7 linked regions of the Homo sapiens genome follow. The protein of the gene in region 2 interacts with the protein of the main gene of each other region in a biochemical or structural test. Each region holds a gene or a part of one and is shown on either strand. Other genes may lie near its edges. The genes, in order: MAGIX, TAMALIN, LIMK1, GOPC, ARVCF, GRM5 and RPS6KA1.

Region 1 (3,517 bases), on a different chromosome or scaffold from region 2:
GCTGTCAATGCCCTTCACTCAGTGCTTCATATACCTGGCTTCTGGTCATTCAGGTTGCAGCTCAAGAGTTATGTCTTCAAAGAGGCCAGAAGCTCACCATCATCTCCCACAATGTAACCTCCTTTTGCTAGCTTCATAGCTTCATGACTCTCACTTCTCTCTGAAATTGTCTTTTTTTTTTTTTTTTTTTTTTGAGAAGGAGTTTTGCTCTTGTTGCCCAGGCTGGAGTACAATGGCACAATCTTGGCTCACCGCAACCTCCACCTCCCGGGTTCAAGCGATTCTTCTGTCTCAGCCTCCTGAGTAGCTGAGATTACAGGCATGTGCCACCACACCAGGCTAATTTTGTATTTTTAGTAGAGATGGGGTTTCTCCATATTGGTCAGACTGGTCTCGAACTCCTGACCTCAGGTGATCCGCCTGCCTTGGCCTCCCAAAGTGTTGGGATTACAGATGTAAGCCACGAGCCTGGCCTTTTTTTTTTTTTTTTTTTTTTTTTTGAGATAAGGTCTCACTGTCACTCCAGCTAGAGTGGAATGGTGCAATCATGGCTCACTGCAGCCTTGACCTCCCAGGCTCAAGTGATCCTCCCACCTCAGTGTCCCAAGTAGTTGGGACTACAGGCATGAGCCACCACTCCCAGCTAATTTTTAAACTTTTTGTAGAGACAAGGTCTATGTTGCCCAGGCTGGTATCAAACTTGTAGGCTCAAACAATCCACCCGCCTCCGCCTCCCAAAGTACTGGGATTACAGGCACAAACCACCATGTCTGGCCTGAAGTTTTTTTTTTTTTTTTTTTTTTTTTTGAGACTGATTCTCGCTCTGTCACCCAGGCTGGAGTGCAGTGGTGCGATCTTGGCTCGCTGCAACCTCCACCTCCTGGGTTCAAGCAATTCTCTGCCTCAGCCTCCCGAGTAGCTGTGATTACAGGCACCTGCTACCACACCTGGCTAATTTTTGTATTTTCAGTAGAGACGGGGTTTCACCATCTTGGCCAGGCTGCTCTTGAACTCTTGACCTCGTGATCCACCAGCCTCGGCCTCCCAAAGTGCTGGGATTACAGGCGTGAGCCACCACGCCTGGCCTGGTTTTTTATTTATTCATTTTCTCGTCTTTTTTGTCTGACATCTGTCTACTCTCATTACATACATCAGCTACACAAAGAAATTTTATGTCTTGTTCCTCCAGCATCTCCACAGTACCTAGCACAGTGCAACATATACAGTTGGGGTTCAATTAATACTTGTCAATGCAGGTGAAATTGAGAGGACAGACTTGGGAATCAGGCCTTGATTAAATCGTGCTTTGACCCTCCTCTCTGTAGCTATCTGCACTCCCTGGGCCTCACTTTCCTCCTCTGCGAAATGGACATATTCGGATAGTTGAGTAGATGTGCAACTATTGTAGATGAAAATAAATATTGCAATAAAGCCAGTAGCAGGGATAAAACTAAGTACATGGTGGCTGGGGTTACTATTATTAGTCTCCTGGGTGTGACTGTATTTATAGACTGGGGCTCTTGAGCCCTTTGCTGACTTCTGAAGAACCACACCTCCACCAGGCTCTAAGTCAGGGGTAGCTGGAAGCCACCCTGGCACACTTCCCCACAATGTCTATCTACAGCTCTAACCACTCAAGTGTTCACCTCTTCACCCTCCAGCTCCCAGCTCTCGCAGCTTGTCTTCACCGTTCCTCTTTCCTCTCCAAGGCCACCTGGACTCTCGCATTCCGGTCCTTTAAATTCTTTCTTCCTTCCCCGTCCCCTCCCCACAGGGGCGAAAGTTGCCCATTCCGTCAGACCACAGCTTCCCTCCTGTGGGGGGATGGGGCCGAGTGCTCAGGATGTGGTGACAGCGGAGGTGACTGGACATTTCTGTCCTCTGCCAGCGCCTTCCTCGCGGCTACCCCGGTTGGAGTCCCGCTGGCCATATAAGCCCTGGCTGTAGGGCTCTGTTCCCAGGGTGAAGGAAACTCTGGGCCTCTCCCGTGCCGGGAACGCCCAGTGTGTGGCGTGTGCACACAAGCCCGGCTGCAGTTCTTCACCATGTACGGAAAATGGGGGCACGGCCCAAAGGTTCTAACAGCCTTTTTTAGCCCGGCCCGTCCAGGGGCGCTGACTCACACCTTCCCCACTCCGCCCCAAAGGGGGCTCCAGGACCCCAGCCGGTGCCCGGAGAGTGGTAGCCTACGTGCCAGCAAAAGCTGGCAGACTAGGCCGGAAGTGGGAGACCGCAGGCCTCTGGCGAAGGAAGCTGCCCTGCTTCTAGGCTTCTAGCCTTGCTATCCCGACGTCAGCTGAGGGTCTGTATGATTCCGAGACAGGACTGTGGATACACTGGTGCAGTCCTGCCACGACAGGCTCACCTCTGCATTCTCCATGCCATGCACAATAATTTATGTGTGAGACCCTGTACACCTCCAAAAAGGTGAAATTAATGAATAAGGAGAGGAGCAGGAGACGGCGAAGAGAAAAAGAAAGCACGCCAGACTGAGGACCGGCAGAAGCAAAGATAACATGTGCAAGCAGGAAAGCAGCAGCACGAAGCTCGTCAGCGATTACTCAAGCAGGATCGACCCACCTGCTCCTTTACAGAGTGGCCCGGGCAGCCCCACCCCGCCTCGAGCGCCTGGCAAGTCAAGACCGGATCGAACCATTTTATTACCTCCCCCTCCCAGAACCAGAAGCGCAGGCTAGCCGGCTGGAAGGGTCGTACCACTGACGCTGCGAGGGGAGTGTGGTCAGAGCCACTGAGCAGCGGGTGGGGGGACCAAACCAAGTGGAAGCTCTTGGGGAGGTGCCAAGTGCCCAGCGGCCACACGCGCCGGATCCAGGTTGGGCGGTAACTAGTGAGCCCCGCGCTGTCAGAGGTAGGCTCAGTGTCTCCGCCTTCCGGCTGCCATCTCCTGAGCGAGCTGCGCTGCCCCCCGGACCCCTAGGGCCCGCGAGAGCCGTTCCTCGCTGGGCACTAGCCAGGGCCCCGGGGAACCCGGGATCTGGTCGTTGGGATCCTCAGCGCGGCGCTCAGGAGGAGAAACCGTGGGGCCATCGGCGGCCGCCTCTGGACTAGGCTCCGGGCTGCCCCGGGTCTTCTTGAGCGTCGTCCGGGATGGAGGGTGCTGAACTAGGGAAGTGCTGCTGCTGCGAGACCCCGTTACCTCCGGCCCTCCAGGATCTGGGCTGCGATCTGGCCATGACGGGACTACGGATTAGATTGGGTGGTGAAGTAGGGAAGGGAAATCCAGGCCTTTGGCTGAGGATGGACAGGAGAACCCAAAGGCTGCGGGAGATGAGACCCTGACCCTTAGAGAAATCTCCCCTCCAGGCCTTCTGGGATCGGCACCACCCCTCACAACCCCGACACCTCCTTTCCCGAGACCCCTCCCCTCCTGGATCCAGAACATGCCCCTCAGAAATCATTTCCCACAATCTCCAAAGGAAATCAAACCCCGCTCATCTAGGAGCCCCTGCTCTCTCCTCTCTCATCCCACCTCCGTTGACTCCCAAACCACCGACCC
Region 2 (4,187 bases):
GCACCTACTTCTGCCCACGCTCAGATCCCTCCTAAGAGGGCTGCCACAGGCTGGGACCAGAAGAGGACTGACATTCTGGAGGCAGGGGCAGCCAGCCCCAAGCAGCTGGACACAGCCTGGCTAAGGTCTGGGCCCGTGGGGTTTGCCAAGGCTAGGAGGGCTCAGGGGAGCCCAGGAGGCCTGGGTTAGGACGTTCCCCATAGACTTTGCCTACACCCCCTCCCAACTCCCACATCCGTTCATCCAGATCTCCCCAGGGAGGGGTAACTGGCAGGGACTGGGGGTGTGTTGAAGAGCACCTAATGACTCAAAAGTCCCTACCTCCTTTCTCTGCCACCCCCTTCACACAGCCCTCACCCCCACCTGCCCTCACTCCCAGCGGGGGAGCCATGTTTAAAGGCTAGGAGAATGACTACCCTCGCTAGGCTGAGATGCTGTCCTGGCACCCCCCAACCCAGCACCTCACCCCTTTGGACCATGGCAGGGGCTGGGTGTTGGTGACTCACCGCTGCTGTTCAGGACTCTGGCTGAGATTCTTCCAGCGGAATCCTGAGCCCTGGGCAGTAAGATGGTCAGAAGGAGCAGGTAAGGCGGGACTGTCCTTGAGCAGACACTGAGAGGTTACCCTGGACACAGCGACCCACTTCCTGTCTGCCCCTTCCCAGCTCCACATCCACACCTGTTTTGGTGCTGGTGGAACTATTTGCCAAGTGCCACTACTGGCACCACTCCTCAACTTTCTCTACAGGCCTTACCTTCATACCTGGGACTGCAGGGACACAACCATCCTCCTGGGTTCCAGATCCATGAACCTCTAAGCCCTTGCTGGTTTCCACACTGGCAGCAGGTGGGGAGATCATTATTCTAAAATGGTCTCCACCCCTAGGGCCCATGTCTGTAGAGGCTCAGGCCATCCAGACTCCCAAAGCTGAGGCAGGGGCTCTTCCCCAGTGGGATTCAGAGGATAGGTGTCCCCTGGGCTCACCTATCAAGGTGCTCCGAGGACCTTCTGCCAGTTGGGTCTCTCCATCTAATTTCTCAGCTACAGACAGTGGCTTGGGAGGGCTGGGGTCAGGGACCCTGTCCCGAAGGGCTGGCAATCCCAGCCAGAATGTGGGGTCAGAGGTGCCAGGTCTCCTAAGGTACAGGCCGTTTCAAGGACCAGTTGTGGATCCCAGCTGCAGGTGACCAGCTGTGCCCAGCTATACCTGGGTCTCTCTCTCCATTGCCATATATTTTGTGCTTTCTGGGACAAAACATCTTAGATGTCAAACTTGTCAGCAAGTCTCACTAAAGGACCGAGACTGGGAGTTCTTTAGGGGTGGTGGTGGGGGGTGTGGAGGAAGGATGAGAGATGAAGGTTCCTGTCTCTTCAGGGTCCTTGATAAACTAAAGTAGTCTCTCACCCTCCCTAACTTTTTGGTCCTGGGAGGAGGTCCAGTCCCAGAGCAGCCCTTTTCTTTGGAGCCTGCACAGCCCAGGGCCTTTCTGTTCTGTGCCTTTGCTAACCCTCCCCCAAAGCTGCCCAAGGCAAGGAAGAGAAGGTTCAGAACCAGATTGGCCTCAGGGGTGGGGACAGTTCCCAAACGGCCAGGGAGGAAGGACTGGGCAGCACAGAGAGACCCCTTTGTCTTTCAACATGATTTTCATAAAATGCAAATTCTCAACAAGCTGTTCATTGTGTGGGGGCTAGCTGGGGGCCGGGGCGAAGGAGGGCGGCTGGGTGAGGAAAGGCCACCAGGCCCCTCTTCTTAACCTGGTGTTGTGTAGGTTCTGAGCCTCAGGTCTCCTGGGGCCAGAGGAAGAGGCTGGCAGAGGGGACTCAGAGGTGGGCGCGGCCCGCATCCTTCCTGCCCCGCGGGCGCCCTGCGACCCCTCCCACTGCGTCCGGTTCCGACAGAAGTCCAGGGAGCAGTGGCCCTCGCGCCCCGTACGTCAGACGTGGGGCCAGGCGGCAGGCCCCCAGCCCAGGAATCGGGGAGTCCCCTCGGAAGGGTGTGCTATCCGGAGTCAGCGGCTCCCCACGCACTTCCTCAGAGTGAGAACGCACGCGGCGCAGCCACCGGCCCGCTTCTCCCACCGGGGGCTCTCGGACCTTCAACTTGCCTGGGGCTGTCTCTGTCCCTCGGGCGAGGGGCTCCTGGGGACCCAGGACACCTGGCCACGGGGAGGCGGGGCATGGGGGGCAGAAAGCCAGATGGAGCGGGTAGGAGAAGGGGGGTGCTGGGAGGAGTCAAGGAGGGAGAGAGGGGGCGTGCATGGGGCGCGGAGTTAAGAGCCACCGAGCCTGGGCGCGGTGTGCAGGCGAGGGCCACGGCCTTCGCAGCAGCGGGGAACGCGGGGAGTCGAGGCACCCAGCGGGCCGGGGAAGAAGGTGGGGGACTCCGCGGACGCCGAGGAGAGGGCACTGCGGAGTCAGCAGGCCCTGTAGGGAGTCGGAGAGGGGCTGAGCAGATCCTGAAGGCGGGCGGGGGACGCACCTTTCGGCGGGGCAGGGTGCCCCCGGACACGGCGAGCGCGCGGTACAGCTCGGCAGGGTGATAGTCCTCCAGCGCCGCGTACAGCTCGTCCGCTGGGGGCCCAGGGGTGGCGGCTGCGGCAGGGGGTCCCGGGGTCGGGACCGGAGCGGCGGGCGCGACTTCCGAGTCGGGAGTCCGGGCGGCGGGGTCCGGGGTGGCCGCCGCCTCCTCCTTCTGCTGCAGCTTCCTGAGTCGGCGGAGGGTCATGGCTCCGGCGCCGGACGCCCCTCAGAGACGGCGCTGGCTCCCCTCGGCGGGGCTGGCGGCGGCTGGGGGATGCCAGCCGGGCGGGCCGCGGGTCGCCTCCCTTTATAGGCTCCGAGAGCGGGGCGGGGTTGGGGGCGGGCGGGGAGCTGCCTCGGGTGGCCTCGCCCCCAGCACGGAGGACCCTCCCCGCGAGGCGCCGCCGCCCTGGAGCCCCGCCCACGGCGCTCGACGGCCGGGGAAACTGCGGGAGCTGGGCGCTCAGTGGGGGAAAACGAGCCGCGGACGCGAAGGGGCGGGATGAGGCCCCCGGGGCGGGGCTCGGGGCTCGGGGCTGCGTGATACCTGGAGGGGTCTGTGAAGGGACATTGCGCAAGGTTTGAAATTTAGGGACGAATAGCTCTGGCGATTCATGGAGTGGGGCACGGTAAGAGGTCACTGTAAGAAGCCTGGGGAGTCGGGGAGGTAGGGAGAGTCACGGAGATCCAAGGGGCTGCAGGAGACTCCAGGGCAGGGAGAGCGGCAGCGGGGCTGCGCAGGAGTAGGGGTGGAGGCCCGATGGAGGAGGGAGGAGACTCCCTGAACTCACTGCGCAGAAGCCCCCAGGGAGGGAGAGGGCCCAGGATTTTCCCTTGACGCAGCTGCCCCAGAAGAGCTGAAAGAGGCTGCCCCCTGTTCGCACGTCTAGGAAGAAGGGAAGAGGTGGAAACCCTGAAAGCAGTAGGCTTAGTTCTGGCCTGTCCCCTCCAAGGGGCTTGAGTGATCCCTGCTGGCAACACCTTTCCTCAGCTCCTGATGCCGGGGTCAGATCCCCCTTCCCAGGAGACAGACGCTTACTGTGGACTTGACTCAGGAGGTTGGGATGAGCCCAGGCTGAGTGGGAGTTCAGGGCTGGGGGGATGGCCATGCTCAGCCGTTCTCTGACCCCATCTTAGGGACCATCCCCCAGGCTGTTACCATGGCTGCCAGGCGGTAGGAGAGGCGGGAATGGCCCAGCCGAAGTCTCTGTCGTCAGTGGTGCCCGAATAAGAAGTGAGAGGAGGAAGTGGAAGGCAGCGTCTGGTGTCTAAAGAGCGGCTAGCCACCACAGGGCGTCAGCAGCACAGGCTGGGGACTCCATGTCCCAACACCCATCGGCCAAGAAGCAGAGGCGGCAATGCGGTGCCCTTGTCTGTCCCCTCCCTCCTCCCCCAGTCTTCCCAAATCTGTTATGCCTTCACAGTTAACATTTATTGAGCACTTAGCATGTGCTATGCACACTGTTTGTTCTGTGTGTCCTTTTACATACATGCATTAACTCACTTGGTCTTCATAACAACCCTACGAAATAAGCACCATTATCCTCCCTTACAGATGAGGAAACTGAGGCCCAGAGAAGATAAGTAATTTGCCCTAAGTCACTCAGCGGCAGAGCTGAGATTCAAAGCCAGGCAGCCTGGTTCCAGAGCCTGCAATCTAACCACT
Region 3 (3,500 bases), on a different chromosome or scaffold from region 2:
CAAACCTCACCCCATGGGAAAGGGCAGGAGGCCCGGGTGTGGGAGAGTCAGCACCCTTGCAGATCTGTGACACAGGTGGGCCTCCTAGGCTCAGGGAGGGGCCAAGGCACTCACCAGTACAGCTTGGAGTGCTCCACCAGCGTGTAGGTGTCCCCGTCACCGATAAAGGTCCCACACGTGAGGCAGATGAAACACTCGGGGTGGTACTTCAGCTCCCCAGCCACCTGGTGCGGGGGTGAGGAGGGAACAGCCCAGCTCAGCAGACCCAACAACCCCCACAGATCCTCCCCTAGGCCTCTTCCAAGGGTGTCACCAAAAAAACAACTGCAGGGACCCGGCTGGCCAGCTGCTGAGCTCCTGGACAGAGCTGGCTCCATAGATGGGGGCGCTGAGGGATACAGACAGACAGTCAGGCTCAGAAAGCAGCTCCAAAGACCAGCAAAAAGGAGACCAGGAGAGACAATGATGGGAGAGAGACCTGGAGCATGGGGTCTGCTTGGATACCCCCACCCCAGGTGAGTGTGCAAGGCAGGGGGCGCTCACCATAACCAGTCCCTTGGTGATTTGCTCAGAGCACCCATGGCAGGACTCGCCATAGCGGGCCCAGTAGTCCTTCTTGCAGAAGAGCTGCCCATCCTTCTCATAGTACTGGTGCGACAGGGAGGCACTGCAGTCACAACACCTGCAGGAGAGGGGCCGGGCTGAGACGTCCACTCCCGCCCTCCTCCACCTCACCTGGGCCCCTGCCTCGGCTACAGGCACCTTTGTAAGAATTAGAACAAGTTTTCTTTTTGTTTGTTTTTTGAGACGGAGTCTTGCTCTGTCGCCAGGCTGCAGTGCAGTGGCTCGATCTCGGCTCACTGCAACCTCTGCCTTCCAGGTTCAAGTGATCCTCCTGCCTCAGCCTCCTGAGTAGCTGGGACTACAGGCACACACCACCATGCCCAGCTAATTTTTTGTATTTTTAGTAGAGATGGGGTTTCACCATCTTGGCCAGGATGGTCTTGAGCTCTTGACCTCGTGATCCGCCCACCTCGGCCTCCCAAAGCGGTGGCTCACACCTGTAATCCCAGCACTTTGGGAGGCCGAGGTGGGCAGATCACTTGGGGTCAGGAGTCTGAGACCAGCCTGGCCAACATGGCAAAACCCAGTCTCCACTAAAAATACAAAAACTAGCCAGGCATGGTGGTGGGCACCTGTAATCCCAGCTACTCGGGAGGCTGAGGCAGAAGAATCGCTTGAACCTGGGAGGCAGAGGTTGCAGTGAGCCAAAATTGTGCCACTGCACTCCAGCCTGGCGACAGAGTGAGACTCTGTCTCCAAAAAAAAAAAAAAGAAAAAGAAAAATAGAGGAGAATCCCCAGGTGTGCAGGGTCATCAAAGCCACGGTTCGCCTGTTTCCTCACTAGAGGCTACCAAGGAGGCCTGGTTGGTGGGGCCTTGAAGGGCAGATGGGGAGGAATGCCAGGCTGTAGGTGCCACAACACAGGCCAGGGTTAGACCTACATTCCCGGCTTTTTCCCAGCCAAGCATCCCGGTGGGGTGGGGACCAGCAGCCCTGCCCAGCCAGGATGAACAAATATAGAAATGTCAGTCTGGGATGGGCATGGTGGCTCATGCCTGTAATCTCAGCACTTCAGGAGGCGAAGGTGGGAGGATCACTTGAGGCCAGAGGTTTGAGGCCAGCCTGGGCAACACAGTAAGACCCCATCTCTTAAAAAATTATTAAAAAATTAGCCAGGATACAGTGGGTCCTGTACTCCCAGCTACTAGGGAGGCTGGGGAGGGAGGATCGCTTGAGCCCAGGAGTTGAAGGCTGCAGTGTGCTATGATTACACCACTGCACTCCAGCTGGGTGACACAGCAAGACCCTCTCTCTAAAAAATAAAATAAACCAAATGCGGGTGCCCCAGTGAACCCGCAGGCACACATGTGCCCCCCTGGGTCCTGCTGTGGGGGGGCATGTCTGGGTCAGGGTACAGACCCACACAGAGAACAGGCTAGGGGGTCCGTCCCGCTCTGCCACTGTTTGGGTGCTATGTGTCGGTCACACAGGGACAGAAGAACCAGGCTCCAAAGGGCCACAATCTAGGAGAGAGGCAGGTAGGAAAGACTGGGACCTGGATGAGATGAGGGACCTTAAGGGCTGTTTCCTACCCAGGAAACTCTCCACAGCCTGGGGCCTGCATGGGTATCACTCATGGGCTGTCTGCTAATGCTAATTAACTGTAACTAGGGAACTGGGGTTGAGGAGGGGAGTTCAGCAGTAAGCTGGTGGGACACTGTCCCTTTAAGAGGATCCAGCCACTTCCCCTTTGTCTGGGAGCCTAGGGGAAGGGGTGGGAGTAAAGGGGGAGCAGAAAATGCCAGGGTTTGGAAGCATGTGGGTGAGGGGTGCATCCAGGAAGGGAGGCCTGGTGCATTCCTCCATGGGGGTGGGGAATGCGGAGGCTGGGCCACCGGAGGTGGTGGCGGTGGCAGGGGCGGCAGGAGACGCCACGTCAGGGTCACTGCCCCACTCGGTGCACAGCAGGGGGCCGGCAGTTCACCGGATCACCGCGGGGGTGGGGCGGAGGACGGAAGTTGGTGAGGGGGGTGGTCTACAGGGCACCTCCCGTCCCAGGGCTCTAACCTAATTCGAAAGGGAAAGGAGTGCTGCAGCCGGGAGGCCAGGCCGACTTTGGGTCCTGCCCTCGCAGAAGCCCCCACGCCTGGTGCAGACCAATGACTCGCTTCCTGCCCTTACACCGATCACACATGACCTCGGTCACAGGGGTGCCACATCACAGGAGTGCCCCTCACTCCTGCCTGCAGGAAGCAGGGCCCCCGCATACCTCTGCAGTGGGCGGTGGGTGGGTGGGGGATTAGGAATTGCTGTAACCAAGTGTCCCCATCCCGGGGAGGGAACGCTCTTCCACAACCTGGAAACTGCTACTGGTCCATTCACTCGCTCACGCAGAAACTCACAAACCTTCATCACTGTTGCTCACTTTCAGCAGCTGTGAAAGACCCGGCGGTGATGACTCACCCGAGGGTTTGAGTGCACTTGGCTTCCCTCCGGTCACCACTTCCTTGATGCCTGTTCTACCAGACACTAGGTCTGCCCACCAGTGTCTGCCACTGACCTGCCAGCTCCCCGCGGCCCCAGGCTGGGCATCCACAAAGCTTGGCCCAGGAGAGAGCATAAGTGATTCCTGCCGGCGAGGCCCCCGCTGTGCACCCAGCATCCTCAGAACTGCCCCGAGACCCCGTCTCTGCCTCCATTGCAGACAGGGCACCCAGGCCTGGCCCAGGCTGACTTGGTGGCTCAGTGGCTGGGGCTCGGGGCCTCAGTGAACCTTTGCGGATGGAGAGCACGCCGGAGTTCCTGTCCCTGCCCCTGCCCCGCCCCTCACCCCTCAGGCCTGCATTCTGGCAGGAGCTAGAGGCTGACGGGCCTGGCTCTCTTGAGTGCCCCACACAGAGTGCCTGACTGTCCCTAAGAAGGATGTCAAGGGAGG
Region 4 (3,500 bases), on a different chromosome or scaffold from region 2:
TGGGAATGTAAACCACCAACCACTATGAAAAACAGTGTGGAGATTCCTCAAAGAACTAAAAGTAGATCTACCATTTGATCCAGCAACCCCACTCCTGGGTATTTACCCAGAGGAAAAGAAGTCATTATATGAAAAAGATACTTGCAAACATGTTTATACTAGCACAACTCATAATTGCAAAAATATGGAACCAGCCCAAATACCCATCAATCAATAAGTGGATTAAAAAAATGTGGTGTGTATATATACAGACACCTGGAATATTACTCAGCCATAAAAAGGAATGAAATAGTGGCACTTGCAGCAACCTGGGTGGAATTGATTGGAGACCATTATCTAAATGAAGTAACTCAGGAGTGGAAAACAAAATGTATGTTCTCACTCATACATGGGAGCTAAGCTAGGAGGATGCAAAGGCATATGAATGATACAATGGACTTTGGGGATCTGGAGTAAAGGGTGGGAAGGGGATGAGGGATAAAAGATGACACATTGGATACAGTGTACACTGCTCAGGTGATGGGTGCACCAGAATCTCAGAAATCACCACTAAATAACTTATTCACATAACCAAACCCCACCTGTTCCCCAGAAACCTATTGAAAAAACAAAACAAAACCCAAACAAACAAAACAAAACACAACTGAGTTCCTTTCCATTGTGAGGCCTAGAGAGGCATTGGAATGAAACCGCAGTTATGGCACTCCCTTTTGACCTAAGCAGTTATCTCTGGAAGCCACCTTCTATGTAGGATTTAGACTAACTGACGCCAAGTAGCCATAAAATACCATATGCTGGACACCATAAGTCATACCTTATAGTGCAACAATGAATAGCCAGTCACTAATCAGTGATTGTAAACCAATGAGAATTCTTATCAAGCAACTTTGTATCTGCCTTGTTCCTTTTTCCCTTTAAAATCTGCTTGTAACTCAGGTGCCAGAGCACTCCCCAGGCATCTGGGAAATATGTGTTGAGTAGCTGTCCTCATTTTGGCTCAGGTAAACTAAAGTATATTTTGTGCCTCAGCCTTTTCCTTTTAGGTTTACAGTAGGAATAGTAATACTAGCAGTAGTAGGTGTGTTGGAATAGAATAAAGATTGTGAACCAATACTTTAAAAAATTCACCTCTGCCTTGAAAGAGTGTTCTGCCTGTTACTCCTTTTTTAAAGTAACAGCACAACAATACACCTTCTTTCACATCCTCCTTTCCCTCAGCAATTGCTCTGTTAGTATCTCTTTGAAGTGATTTATTATTCATAGCCAACAGTAGAGAAACTTTTAACTTTGATCTAGAGCCACATTGATAATGAACTGGTGATATGCTTGTCCCTTTGCTGCTTTAAATCTGTCCTGTTTTTAAATAGGCTGTTTTGCAACATTGAAGCTTAAGTTTAATATTGATCCAGTACGCACTTATGAACACGAATTATGTGCCAGATGCTGTATTGGGCACTTAGGATACAATGGAGAGCAAAAAAGGGATGTAGTCATGGCTTTTATGGAGTTTGGATTATATTGGAGGAATTTGTTGGGAGAATAATCATGTAAATGAGAAATTGCAACTTTGATGAATACTATGAAAGGTACATAAGAGTAAATGAGACCCTATTTTGGGATGTCAGAGAAGGCTTCCCTGAGGAAGTTATTGAGCTAAGACATAAAGGAATTATGTGTAAATAGGAATGAATTAAGCTAAGAGAAATAGGAATGCCATTCAACATTGCCGTAGAGGGAATGGGAAGTGAAAAGCACCTGTGGTGGGCAAGCGCATAGTGCATTTGAAGATTCGAGAGATAGTTGGTATGTGTAACAAGAGAAGAGGGCAAAAGAAGCAAGGCACAAGATAAGTTTGAACAGACAGAGAGGGACTATTTCTACATGACTTTATGGCCATGCAAAAATATTTGGGGCTTTATCATAATCGTGGGAAGTCTTTTAAACCAGTTCGTAGCCTCAGATATGAAGTTAGAATAGTTCACTCTGACTATGGTATGGAGAAAATTGCAGAGAATGACATGAATGAATGCAGAAAATTGTTTAGAAGGTTTCTGTTTATGTGAGATTATGATAGTGTGGAGTAAGATAATAGAGGTAGGAGAAGGTATTCAGAACAAGAGAAACTGGAGAGGTAAAAATAAAAAAAACCTAGAGATGGATTGGAACAGAGGGATGAGGGAGTTCAGGATAAATCCAAGTGACAATCTTGTGCAGCTGGTTGCCTGAATAGATAGATGAATGTGTTATATTATTAGCAATAACAATATTGCCAACTTTATTGATCAGTTACCATGGGCCAACCTCTCTTCTGAGTCTTTTACATAGACTGATTCATCCAATTCTCACAACAGTCCTGGAAACAGGTTTATTAGTATAGTTACTCCAACTTTACAGGGATTAAGTAAGAGGCCTGAGGCTACGGAGCTAGAGAAATCAGTCTCTGCACAAACACATTATGTCTGATGGGGGATGGAGGAGGTGGAGAGAGAAGCAGACAGAAAGAGTGAGTGTGGCTGAATAGATAGCAAGAAGTGAGATTGTAGGGTACAAGGGAGGTTTTGTTTTCATTTTGTTTTTAAATAAAAACAAATAAAACATAAGTCTGTGAGAAGCATCTACTTGAGAGAAAAGCCAAATATAGAAAAAGAGTGGGGTAGTTAATATTAGTAAGATTTTGTAATAACAGCTACTTAGAAGAGGGAGAGAATGGGAGCAGACAGTAGGAGGTTGTGGAAGTTTCTGTCTGATGGCTTTTTTTTTTCTGTAAAATAGGAGCCCACGTCAGTTGCTAAAAGTAGGTGAGAGTAAGAGCATGAGGCTAGTAGAAGAGGTTTGAGATAGTAATGGAAGAGTGGGAGAGCCAATTGGCCAGAGAAACAGGACTGCCAGGCATTGTTGAGGAATGGCTTGGGGTTAGTTATCATAAATTATGGTGCAACCGGTCTGTACTGTTGTGTGATTTTCTCTAGCAATGCATATCTGTTTAGGTACAGGCACAGTAATGAGAGTAATAACTAGGTTTATTCAATGTTATAGCAAAGGAGTTTGTTATACAGACAAGTGTGTTATTGAAGTGAAAGTGGTAATGGGGCTGATGAAAAGGAGATAAATTGAAGACTAAGGAAGGAGAATTGACAGGATTTGATAATTATGTAGATGCAGGAGATAAGAGAAAGGGTTAAGGATAACACTGCATTTCTGTTTGGGAAATGATTGATCAGTATCTGTAGTGGGTTGAATCGTATCCCTCCAAAATTCATATCCACCCCCAAAACCTCAGAATGTGACCTTATTTAGAAAGAGGGTCTTTGCAGGTGTAATTATGTAAAGATGGAGGTAAGATTATAGTGGATTAGAGGGGGCCCTAAATCCAATGAAAGTGTGCTGATAGGAGACAGAAAAGGCCACACACAGACACAGAGAAGAAGGCTATGTGATGATAGAAGCAGAGATTGGAGTGATGTATCTACAAGCCAAGGGATGCCAGTGATTGCCAACAG
Region 5 (3,500 bases), on a different chromosome or scaffold from region 2:
TCCCAGCCCCCTCAGATAACTCAGCTTTGTGGCTAACACAGGAGGCCCTGCCTCCACTGGAGGCGTCCCTCCAAACCTTCCCACCTCTTACGCACCGTGAGGCCGAGCAAGCCCTCGGCCTCTCTGTGCCTGTCTCCCCCAACCTTGCCTGACATGACCCATGGCACTTCCTCCCATTCTAAACCCTCAGCAGGTGTCCTGGTGCTGAATCACCCTCCAGGAAATCCTGCACCTAGGGGCCTGTTTCCCCATCTGTTCCCTGAGGCCCTCCAGGCCTGCTTGATGGCTCAAAGCTTCACTACCAGGGCAATCCTGAGCCCAGACATCCCCCAGTGGAGCTGGCTTCATCTCAGCCCACTCACCTTTGGCGGCCTCAGTTCGCTTGGGCAGGTCTAGCGTGTCAAAGTTCCGGTCCATCTCACCATCCTTCTTTCCTGGAAGGGAAAGGTGGTGGGAGGTGAGGCAGACCCCATATGGGGAATGGGTGTATCAGGAGAGTTGGGCACAGTTCTCTCCTACCCAGGCCCCAAAAGGCACCCCCATGTCCAGGCCTGGGCACCTGTGGGAGTGGAGCACCGTTGTCAGAGTTTGGGCAGACAGTTTAGCCTAGGGGTAGGAGTTGGTGGCAGTGGGGCCTGGGGATGTCCCAGCCCTGCCCCTAGGACTCATCTCCCACCAGGTGCTGGGAGCTGTACCACAGACCCTCCCGGTGGCTCCCTTGCAACTGCCAGGTATGTAGACTGAGGGAAGCCAGGAGCCCTGGCTGGATGGTAGGTGGATACAAGCCAAGAAACTGAAGGCTGACCAGGACAAGACTCACTTGGGTCACACAGTAAGGCAGAACTAGGGGGAAACTCCCCCAGCTGGGGTCAGGACATTGTCCCAGGATCTACTAGCCAGGAGAAACCCCACAGCAGCCCACCTAACATTTGTGTAGCCCTGGCTTGCACACGTCTGTGACAGTGAGCCCACTGTCAACCACTCTCCCCATGTCAGATGATGCTTCTACCCCTTCAGAAGGCAGCAGAGTGGAGCCAGATGACCTGGGGTCCCTGCCCTGCTCACCCTCATGGGACCCTTGTATCCCTCCGAGCCACATGATGCCCCATTCTATCAGAGAAACAGACTGCTCCTTGGTGCCCCTAGAGATAAGTACCCCCGGGCCCTGCCCACTCTTGGCTCTGCCCAACTCTGCCCAGGTAGGCAAGTCTGAGGTTACAGAATGAGCCCCGTGGCCTTCCCACCTGCCACTGTCATAAAGATGGCAGCCCGAGTGATGAAGCCAGGGGTGGGGCAGGGCCCTGGGGCTGGAACGTGCTCGCCTCTTCCCAGGTACCCACTGCACACGCCAGGCCTGGAGAGCAGGATAAAAAGGGACTCACCTTGGTGGAACCACTCCTCTGGGAGGCCGGAGGAAGCAGAGGAGAGAGGAGAGGAGCCTGAACAGGCAGCACTCATCACCCCCCCATGCCCTCCCGGAAGCCTCAGGTTCCCACTGCACACCCTGGATCAAGCAGGCAGCATGTGGAACCTCATCCCATCACTTCTGGGCACTGAGCACCCACCAGGGGTACAAGAAGAGGGAGGCCTGGGGTCAGTGGGGCAGGGGCAGGTGGCGTACAGGTCCCCCACAGCTGCTGGGGAGGTCCTGGGAACCTACACCCTGCTAGTGCAGTAGAGAAGGTGTGCAGGGCATCTTGCCCAGGCAGATGGGGGGCTGCCCCACAGGTTGGTGGCAGTCTACAGCTATTCTGTGAACAGTGAGCAGGCAGCAGCCATGGCTCCTTCCCAACTCATGGGCAAGTGGAACTCTCCCCGGAGTAGAAAGACTGGGTCTGGGCATTGGTTGGTTTCCCTTGTGTACTCCCTGGGGGTCCCACAGTGTAGATGGGGAAGGTTGGACCTGGGTCCCATCAACCATGTGACCCAGGGCAGTCCAGCCTCCTTGACTCCTGGCTTCCCTGCCTGCCTGTTGGGGGCTGACCAGGTGTCCTCTAGCCTCCATGATGGGCTGCTGTGGGTGTACAGAGAGCCTTCCGCTGGGGCAGGAGTTGAGATGGTAGAGATGATACCCCAGTCCGCCCCACCCACCTTTGGCCTTCTTGCCTCCAAAGCAGCTGGCATCATCCCGCCTCCGGCGCTGGGAGCCTACAGCACTGCCCAGGGGCCCGGGCTCGGCCTCCTGGTACCTGTCGGCCCCGGGCACCTCCTTGTGCACGTGGTAGGACAGGTTCCGCATGATGCACACGCAGTTCTCCACCGACTGCAGGGAGAGGTGAGTGGGTGGGGCAGGGCACCCTAGGCACAGGGCTGGCCCTCAGGAAAGACTGGCCACAGCTGGTGTGCATGAGGGCACCGGGAGCAAAGGAACAGGGAGTCCTCAGTGGAGGGGAGCAAAAGGGCGGTAACCGCCAGGAAGGGTCCATGGGAGGAAGCCTCTGCCCTCACGGCACACCTTCTGCCTGCAGGACGGTGCCCACTTCAGTGTGGTCACTGCGAGGCGGGCCACACCCAGAACGCCACCCCAGACCCACAAGCCCATTCCCCTGTGCTGCTCCCACAGTTCCAGCCTCCTGGGACCTGCATGATCGTCTCTCCAGCCCTTGGTATGAGGCTGTGACCGTCCCTGCCCACCTTGTTGTCAGTGTCCTTCCGGCCCACAGCCGACTGCAGGGCATGCAGGAGCGCGTCCACCAGCCCTTCACACTCCCGGAGTCGCCGCCGGGCCTCAGCACCATCGGAGCTCACATTCCTGTGTGGCCAAGAGCAGGCCAGGTGACCCCTGGCTACCAGAAACTCCCTGGCTCCACCCTGGCCTTGTGGGCTTGTCTTCATCTGCAAAATAGGCCCTGCTGCTGCCCTCCTAGCACTAATGGGAAAGGACCCCACAGTCTGGAGCTCAGTGAAGGGGGAGAAGCTAACTGCCCCCAGGCCTCAGGAGGGGAGCCCTGGCAGACAACTATCTTGGCTGGGGATAGCTGGGCAGGGAAAGACAGGGTTTCCCTGCCTCCCAGCTGACCTGGAAAGGGACAGGTGCACTCTCAGAGAGACCTGAACCTGTGCAAGGGCAATTCTGGGTCCCTCGCCACCCCAATGGCAGCTCTGGGCCCCACCTTACCCCAAGGTCAAGAGCCTGCAGGGCTGCGCGGGAACACCCTGATGGACAAGCAGGACTGTGGGGACCCAGGACTCTGTGGGGTCAGCAGGGCCTCCCAGGGGTAGGAGGGGAAGGGCAGAGGTCACAGGTGGCTGGGATGAGCCTCCCAGGCAGATGAACAGGAAGGTCCCAGCTCCCCCTCTGGCTGTCAAGTGATGGGAAGGTAGGTGAGAGCTGGGCAGGGCTACGGTACCACAGAGACCCCTCCAGAGGGTGCCCCTGGGAAGACTGGGACACCACTTGGGGGTGAGGACAGCTCCATCAGGCCCCACTTCTCATCCACAGGACTTGTGCCACAGCTCTGAAGCTCCTAAGCTCTGGCGCTCCTAAGCTCGCCGCCATC
Region 6 (3,998 bases), on a different chromosome or scaffold from region 2:
ACCACGCGCACCTGGCCTTAGAGAGCGGGAACTCGGATGCGAAGGCATGCAGAATCTCCTTTTCAACCCTTGCAGCTCTTCCCTCCTTCACCCCATTGCTCGCGCCTTTTTCCCCAACAGGTTTAATTAAGGCTGTTCGCAAATGGAACAGACTTGAATCTTGTCGGCTTTGGCCACCCCTGCTCCACCCGCGTCCCCCTCCCCCAAACCACACTATGAGCTACTCAGCAAGCCTATAGATCCTAAATCCTTCTCTGGCCAGGGGACACTTGGGCACACAGACACTTAGCAAGCTTACCCCCCTGTTGGCTGCGCTGCGAGCAGTGAGACTCGGTCTAGCTAGCCCCCCGAAAAGTTGGGCCACGGGGATCAGCAGGGCAGAGCCGGCCTCTCCAGTCCCCGGCTTCCCCCCCAAGATGATCTCAAGCTCATTCCCTCCGCTCAGCGTGCGCAGAACAGCCGAGCTGAGGGCGGCGTGTGCAGCAATCTCCCCGCTACTGAGAAAGGGGGGATGGGGGGAAGGGGAGAGAGCGGAGGAGGGAGGGGTGGTAGTTTGTATTTATAGAGAACAGAGTTCTTTGCGCAACTTTTTGGTGCCACCAAGTGGCACAGTGAGTTCCTTTAGGAACATAGACTCCTGGGTGAATCTGGATGGGTAGACCAGCTCTGTCAACAGATGCTCACATGGCAAGGGAGCTGGAGGCACTCCCAGGACTTACTTTTCACATGTTTACCGTCATATCTCAGCACCTGGGATACAAATCCCTAAATTCTAAGAATAAACCTGTATTGAGTGAGAAAGGGCACCTGTGCCTTCCTCAGACAGGTGGAAGGAGTGTCAAGGACATGGTAGGTCCCAGTTGTCTCCTAGGAGTGTAGACATCCTTGTCTCAGGGGGAATATCCATTATCTTCTTCTTCCTAACCCCTCTGCCTAGATTACATTGCATTTATGTTTTACTCTAAAACCTTCTTCTTGCTGCCCTGACTACCTAATCTTTAAACTGGATTGGCACTTATTTTCCTTGCCACCAAACCTTCTTCCTCAATGCTAACCTTAAAAATAGCATATGACTTGTTCACAACGTGCAGGTTTGTACCCTAGAACTTAAAGTATAATAAAAATAAATAAATAATAAAACACTAAAAAAATAGCATATGACTTTAGGCTCTGTGGATCTGAACATTTCTAAACAGCTCTCAGAACTCCAAGTTCACTGAGCTACAGGCTGGAGGTTGGATTTTCCTCACTCATTTCCACAGACCTCTCAGCATGCATTATCCCAACAGCACAGTCAGGATCTTGCCAACTGCCTTTAGTACTTTGAGGAAGAATCCCCTGAAGCTTCCTTTATCCATATTTTATGAGTGTTCTTACTTCTTAGTATGCAGATCTTCAAACACATACATAGACACTACTGCATGGGACCTTCATGTCCCCAAATGCAGAAGATCCTCTACATTGTTCAATAGAGAAACTGAGTACATGAAGGTTAAGGGGCTTGTTCAAGGTCATGTTTCTCTAGAGATCTGTCCAGGAACTACCTAGGGTAGAACTGAATGAACGCAGTGATGCCAAACCCGATCACCCTGTTCTTGTTCCTTCTACTACCCCACTCAGCCTATTCAGGCATATTCAGCTCCCTTCTCTTCCCTGTATTCATTTTTCATATTCTCTCTCTCTCTCTCTCTCTCTCTCTCTCTCTCTGTGTGTGTGTGTGTGTGTGTGTGTGTGAGAGAGAGAGAGAGAGAGAGAGAGGGAGAGAGAGATATTATTTTTGCCAAAGTTCCATAAAGGAACCAAGAGTAAACATGTCTTCCAAGCTCCACTGGGAGTATATGAACTTGAGTTTATAGGTCCAGAGCTGCAGGTGTACCATCTTTACATGACCCACAGTTCCAGAAAACCTCTCCCTCCTAGTACTGTAGTCCTTTTAGAAACGGAAACTGACATTTACACCCAGTCGGGTCCCTTCTTTGCTGCCTCTTTTTGGGGTGAAGCACCAGCAACTGCCATTAGCTCCCTCAAACACCTAATGGGCTCAAAGATAGAGGAGCCCATCTCTCTTCCTAAATCCTTGCCTTTCGTGCACATGTATTGGCATCACACACACACACACACACACACACAGACAGAGGGAGAGAGAGAGAGACAGACACACAGAGAGAGAGATCCAAACGTATCCTTTGGCTCGGATCTTTATCTTTTCCTCCTCTGTTTTTTTTTTTTAGTTCGTTTTCTATGGAAACAAGCCCACTTAAATCCCTCACTTATGCAAATAAAAGCAAAATGATCTTCATAAACCTCCCATTGGAGCGATACCGCGGTAGCCCAGGCTCCTGACTTAAATTTATGTCTGATTCACACAGCACACGTCCTTGCAGGGTGACTTTTCTAAACTTGCAGGACCTCGTAGCGTTCCTGGCTCTACCAGCCCTCCACCTGCCCACCACTTGCCCTCCTGGGTCTTTTTAGCCCCAGCTCCCGCCCCTTGCTTGATTGCTCTCCATCCCTGCACTGGGGGAGGGGCTCCAGCGGTATCCTATATCCGTGGTAACTATAGCCAAGAGAAAGAAAAAGGCGCTGTGCTTACCAGGTGCGCGCCCTGAGCCTTGCGCCCCCAGGCAGCCGCTCCTCGAGGGCTTCCTGCGCTCTCGTAGCGGCCTTGGCTGCAGCTGGAGCGCTAGTGTCGGCGATGGAGGCAGCGGTGACAGCAGGCAGAACGGCTGCGGGGCCCGCGGCGGTGGCGCTCGCTCTCTCGCGCCAGCGCCGGGAGCACGTGCCGCGCTCGGGCAGACGCAGCTGGAAGCGCAGCGCAGGGCTGGCTTATACTCCCGCAGCGCGCGGCGGGGGTTGGCAGAACGGCCAGGGCATAGACTCAGTGGGTGAATAAGGGTCTTAAAGCCTCGTCGTTTCGGGGTTCAGGCGAGGGTAGCCTTGGTCTCTCTCTCCTGCTCCTCACGTTCCCTCTGGGAGCCATGGGAGGAGGAAAGCTGTGCGGAGGAGGCGTGGGTGGTGTGTCACTCAGAGAGAAGCTGGGGGAGCAGGTAGATAATAAGGTTCTTTTTGACTATGGCACTGAAACCCCTGACAATGATTGGGAGAAGGGGCGTCACTGCTGGAGGGTACAGAAAGCTAGGAAGTCAGGGAAGCCCGAGATGATTCAGAGGTGTGACTGGTTAGAAAGAACGGCCTCTAATGATGTTACTTATTAATAATACCATTTTGCATTTTCTGCACTTCTTACAAACGATTCTTCCTACATCCGTTAAAATTTATTCTTCGTTGGCAGTTGAATGTCTTTACTTTCTCAAATGACTTTGCTTCCCTTCCTTCACCACCCCCATAACTGCCCAGGATTGTCAGCTATGCTGAGGTTATCTTTAAGTACAAAAGCAGACTTCATTTCTGCCTCTGAAAAGGCGATTGGTATAAATTACTTGCATAGCTTAATTTAAAGAAAAGAAAGACATTGCAGTAATATGATTATTATTCCCATTGTATTTCCCTAGCTGAATTTTGGGAACCAGGTGCTTGCAGCAGCTGGGTCAAAGATTAAAAGATGAGTGCACTACAGACAAGGGGATTGATGCTGGTGCATTCATTACTAATGCTCATTAGATTTTCCACTAGACCCTTGTCAATAAGGTAAGTTTTTGTTTGATAGCTTCAGGATTTAACAACAAGAAAAAGAGATGTATCTACCACACCTTGTTGGGTTTTACAATGGCATCTTTCTTCTTGCATTTTCACGTCTACTGATGGGATCATTGTTACTTTTTGTATTTCTTTGACTGCAATTCACAAAACAAGTTTTAGTACTTTGGAGAGAGGCCAGGAAAGCTGTGAGTGAGCTTCCTTAATTAAAAAAGAAAGAAAGAAAGATGGCATAGATGAGAAAATAGAAAGATGGCATAGGTGAGAAAATACATAAAATAGTGAGTTCGCAAGAAAATGGAGGGTGACATGACTAGATGACTCTGGTGATGTGATTAAGT
Region 7 (3,500 bases), on a different chromosome or scaffold from region 2:
TTGGGTGGGAAGGAATGATGCCAGTTGGAACCCATTTCTGACATCTCAGAACTGGGGGCAGTGGTCTGGGGCCCTGGGCATCTGTCCTCATGAGCAGTGCTCTCTGAGGAAGAGGGAGGAGTGTGGGTCTTCAACCTCTAAGAGGCCAAAGGACTCCTAAGACAAAGTCCTTCATTCAGTACTCTGCAAGGTCAGCACCATTGTCCCCATTCAGTCATTTATTTAGCACTTAGGTGATAAGTACTATTTCAGACAACAAAGTGCAGATGTCAGCAAGACACACCTGCCCTCGTGATACAGATGAGGAAACTGAGACTTTATTACTATTATTATTTTTTGAGACATAGTCTTGCTCTGTCACCAGGCTGGAGTGCAGTGGCGTGATCTCGGCTCACTGCAACCTCCACCTCCCGGGTTCAAGTGATTCTCCTGCTTCAGCCTCCTGAGTAGCTGGGACTACAGGCCCGTGTCACCATGCCCAGCTAATTTTTGTATTTTTAGTAGAGTCAGGTTTTCACCATGTTGACCAGGATGGTCTCGATCTCTTGACCTCGTGATCCTCGTGATCTGTGAGGCCTCTTGGCCTCAGCCTCCCAAAGTGCTGGGATTACAGACATGAGCCACTGCGCCTGGCCGAAACTGAGACTTCAAAAAGTGATATGAGGCCACGCGTGGTGGCTCATGACTGTAATCCTAGCACTTTGGGAGCCTGAGGCGGGTGGATCACCTGAGGTCAGGAGTTTGAGACCAGCTGGGCCAACATGGCGAAACCCCGCCTCTACTAAAAATACAAAAATTAGCCAGGTGTGGTGGTGCGGCCTATATTCCCAGCTACTTGGGAGGCTGAGGCAGAAGAATTGCTTGAACCCAGCGGGGCAGAGGTTGCAGTGAGCTGAGATTGCGCCGCTGCACTCCAGCCTGGGCAAAAGAGTGAAACTGTCTCAAAAAATAAATAAAAATAAAAATAAAAAGTGATATGACAGACCCAAGGGCAGAATAAGTGGCTGGCAGAGCTAGGATTAGTGGCTGTATCTTTGTGGCTGCACAGCTGTGTTCTTTCAAGGATTGCTATGCAGCAGTCAGGCCAGAGGGGCAGATGACCCCGGACCCAGGACCCAGGCTCTGAGTGGGAAGCCAGCACCCCACAACCCCCCTGACCCCCCTACCAGTCTGTTCTCCAGGGCTGCCTGTTCCCTTACTCTTACAGGTTTGGCGTTCCATAAGAATGACACCCAAGCCAGAGATCCAGGGAGTAGAGGCAGCCAGACTGCCTTAGAGCGGGGGGTCCCTAAGTCATCCAGGCCACTGCTCAAGAAACCCACACCTCTAGGTACACCTACCCCTTCCTCCCCACCCTCAGTAGGCTTGCAGCCACGTGACTTTGGGTTATGGTCACATGTCTGCCACCTGCCTGCTGAGGGACCTCGGTGAGTCCCTTAACTCTCCTGAGCCTCATCTGAAAAATAGGAGTAATAGAACCTGCTCTGGCCTCCTTGCTGTCTTTGCTGGGTTGAACTTTCACTGGATAAACCACATGCTGGACTCTGGCTGGGTGCCAAGATGTTGATGATGGACAAGCCATGGCCCCTTCCCGAGTTAACCTGCAGCATGCTTAGGTTATGGGGGTAGAGAGGAGGGAGGAAAGAACATGAGGCTGTGTGGACAGGGGTGACATTTGAATTCAGTCCTGATAAAAGATCAGGAGTTTGCCAAAGTGACAAGGCAGGAAAGGCTTTCTTGGTAGAGGGAGCCACCATACAAATGCTGGGGATATAAAATAGACTGTTTTCAGGGTCTGTGGTTGTTCAGTTTAGCTCAAAAATAGGGCCCAATGATAAGAATGGCTATTGTTTGTAGGCCAGTTACATGTCAGGTGTATATATTTATAGGCATTATTTCATTTGCTTCTTGCCGCCACCATTGAGGTATGTTACTTTGATCCGCATTTCACAGATGAGGAAACTGAAGCCCCAGTAAATGAACTAACCTTCTAGGGGTCACGCAGGTGGTAGAAGCCAGAATTTGAACCCACAAGGTCAGGTTGCAAAACCTACATTCCTAGTTATTGTGCTGGGCAGTTGAAGATGATGGCCTTGATTTCTATGCTAAGGAGCTGGGACTTGATTCTACAGGCAGTGGAAGCCACAGAGGGGTTTGGGGCCTGGTACATAGAAGGTTCTCAGCAAATGTTGACTGAGTGAGTTGAGTGCAGCAGTTGCACTTGATTTTAGGAATGATGAGGGTTTGGAGTGGGGAAGGCTGTGGGGCAGGGAGCTGGTGGGTAGGCTGTTCTGATCATCTGCAGGAATTATGTCAAGAGTCTAGAATGCTGGGTGAAGTGGAGCTCAGTCTACAAAAGCATCCCTACCACAGCCCAGCCCCTGGGCCCTGACCAACCCATCCCTTCTCCCCAGGCTGCTGAGAGATGACAGTGTGTGTATGGATGTGTGCATGGAGGGGCCTGTAGAACATTTGGCCCCTGGGGAGAGATTAGGGGCATTAAAGGGGCTCAGGGGGCAGGATGTCCTGGGAGTGGCAATGGGGAGCTGTTCCAGGGGCAGGGAGATTATGTAATGGGTAGAGCACAGCTGTGCCTACCCAGCTGTAGCCAAGCAGGGCTACAGCTGCCCCATGGACCCAGCTCCTGGCTCCAAAGTCCAGATCCAGACCTGTTCTAGAGCAGGCCTTCCTAGCTGTTGGGAACCTCCTGTCTGCCTCACCACACTCTCCCTGTTCTAGGAGGGGTGGGGCAATTTCTTTCAGCTTCCAAACGCCCAGATAGGGTAGGTTACTTGCCTCACATCACACAGGAAACAGATGGGCTGGGTTTGACACACCCCAGCATATTTAATAACCACCTGAGAGTGAAGTCTGGGGGCTGGAAAAGGCAAGACTGACCAGAGGGGGGCTCTGGGCTCTGGGCTGTTTCTCAGCTGACCTGTTTGGAGCACCTCCTGGATTTGGGACCAGATTTTGAATCCCCACTCACCAGTTGTGTGACCATAGGCATCATCACTAGGTCCCCTCAGAGCCTCAGTTTCCTTCTCTGCCACATGGGGCCAGGGCCTACCTCCCAGGGCTGTCATGAGGATTAAATGGTGCCACAGGGGCCAGGCGCAGTGGCTCACACCTGTAATCCCAGCACTTTGGGAGGCCGAGGCGGGCGGATCACCTGAGGTCAGGAGTTTGAGACCAGCCTGGCCAACGTGGTGAAACCCCGTGTCTACTAAAAAAAATACAAAAATTAGCCGGGCATGGTGGCGTACGCCTGTAATCCCAGCTACTTGGGAGGCTGAGGCAGGAGAATCGCTTGAACCTGGGAGGCGGAGGTTGCAGTGAGCTGCGATTGCACTACTGCACTCCAGCCTCAGCAACAGAGCAAAACTCTGTCTAAAAAAAAAAAAAAAAAAAAAAAAAGTGGTGCCACAGGTGCGAGGCACTGAGCCCAGTGCCTGCCATGTGGCAGAGGCTTGGAAGAGAGCAGCTGTTAGCCCCAAGCC

The links.
Region 1: the proteins of TAMALIN (region 2) and MAGIX interact in a test that uses a peptide from one of them, tested with the Homo sapiens proteins (one large-scale study listed by IntAct).
Region 3: the proteins of TAMALIN (region 2) and LIMK1 interact in a test that uses a peptide from one of them, tested with the Homo sapiens proteins (one large-scale study listed by IntAct).
Region 4: the proteins of TAMALIN (region 2) and GOPC interact in a test that uses a peptide from one of them, tested with the Homo sapiens proteins (one large-scale study listed by IntAct).
Region 5: the proteins of TAMALIN (region 2) and ARVCF interact in a test that uses a peptide from one of them, tested with the Homo sapiens proteins (one large-scale study listed by IntAct).
Region 6: the proteins of TAMALIN (region 2) and GRM5 interact in a test that uses a peptide from one of them, tested with the Homo sapiens proteins (one large-scale study listed by IntAct).
Region 7: the proteins of TAMALIN (region 2) and RPS6KA1 interact in a test that uses a peptide from one of them, tested with the Homo sapiens proteins (2 studies listed by BioGRID and IntAct).

What each region holds. Positions count from the first base shown.
Region 1 is NC_000023.11:49,165,758-49,169,274, reverse strand, and holds the end of MAGIX (PDZ domain-containing protein MAGIX), read right to left. Parts: intron 3,202-3,517; coding exon 2,876-3,201; 3' UTR 501-2,875; downstream 1-500.
Region 2 is NC_000012.12:52,005,559-52,009,745, reverse strand, and holds the start of TAMALIN (protein TAMALIN), read right to left. Parts: upstream 2,801-4,187; 5' UTR 2,727-2,800; coding exon 2,481-2,726; exon of another isoform or gene 2,091-2,480; intron 1,925-2,090; exon of another isoform or gene 986-1,924; intron 557-985; coding exon 507-556; intron 1-506. UniProt on the Homo sapiens protein: Plays a role in intracellular trafficking and contributes to the macromolecular organization of group 1 metabotropic glutamate receptors (mGluRs) at synapses.
Region 3 is NC_000007.14:74,093,804-74,097,303, reverse strand, and holds part of LIMK1 (LIM domain kinase 1), read right to left. Parts: intron 683-3,500; coding exon 544-682; intron 225-543; coding exon 115-224; intron 1-114. UniProt on the Homo sapiens protein: Serine/threonine-protein kinase that plays an essential role in the regulation of actin filament dynamics. Acts downstream of several Rho family GTPase signal transduction pathways.
Region 4 is NC_000006.12:117,592,512-117,596,011, reverse strand, and holds part of GOPC (Golgi-associated PDZ and coiled-coil motif-containing protein), read left to right. Parts: intron 1-3,500.
Region 5 is NC_000022.11:19,975,324-19,978,823, forward strand, and holds part of ARVCF (splicing regulator ARVCF), read right to left. Parts: intron 2,753-3,500; coding exon 2,635-2,752; intron 2,264-2,634; coding exon 2,092-2,263; intron 1,401-2,091; coding exon 1,383-1,400; intron 1,355-1,382; coding exon of another isoform or gene 1,254-1,354; exon of another isoform or gene 1,245-1,253; intron 435-1,244; coding exon 363-434; intron 1-362. UniProt on the Homo sapiens protein: Contributes to the regulation of alternative splicing of pre-mRNAs.
Region 6 is NC_000011.10:89,063,183-89,067,180, forward strand, and holds the start of GRM5 (metabotropic glutamate receptor 5 isoform a precursor), read right to left. Parts: upstream 2,801-3,998; 5' UTR 2,594-2,800; intron 478-2,593; exon of another isoform or gene 299-477; intron 1-298. UniProt on the Homo sapiens protein: G-protein coupled receptor for glutamate. Ligand binding causes a conformation change that triggers signaling via guanine nucleotide-binding proteins (G proteins) and modulates the activity of down-stream effectors.
Region 7 is NC_000001.11:26,532,761-26,536,260, forward strand, and holds part of RPS6KA1 (ribosomal protein S6 kinase alpha-1), read left to right. Parts: intron 1-3,500. UniProt on the Homo sapiens protein: Serine/threonine-protein kinase that acts downstream of ERK (MAPK1/ERK2 and MAPK3/ERK1) signaling and mediates mitogenic and stress-induced activation of the transcription factors CREB1, ETV1/ER81 and NR4A1/NUR77, regulates translation through RPS6 and EIF4B phosphorylation, and mediates cellular proliferation, survival, and differentiation by modulating mTOR signaling and repressing pro-apoptotic function of BAD and DAPK1.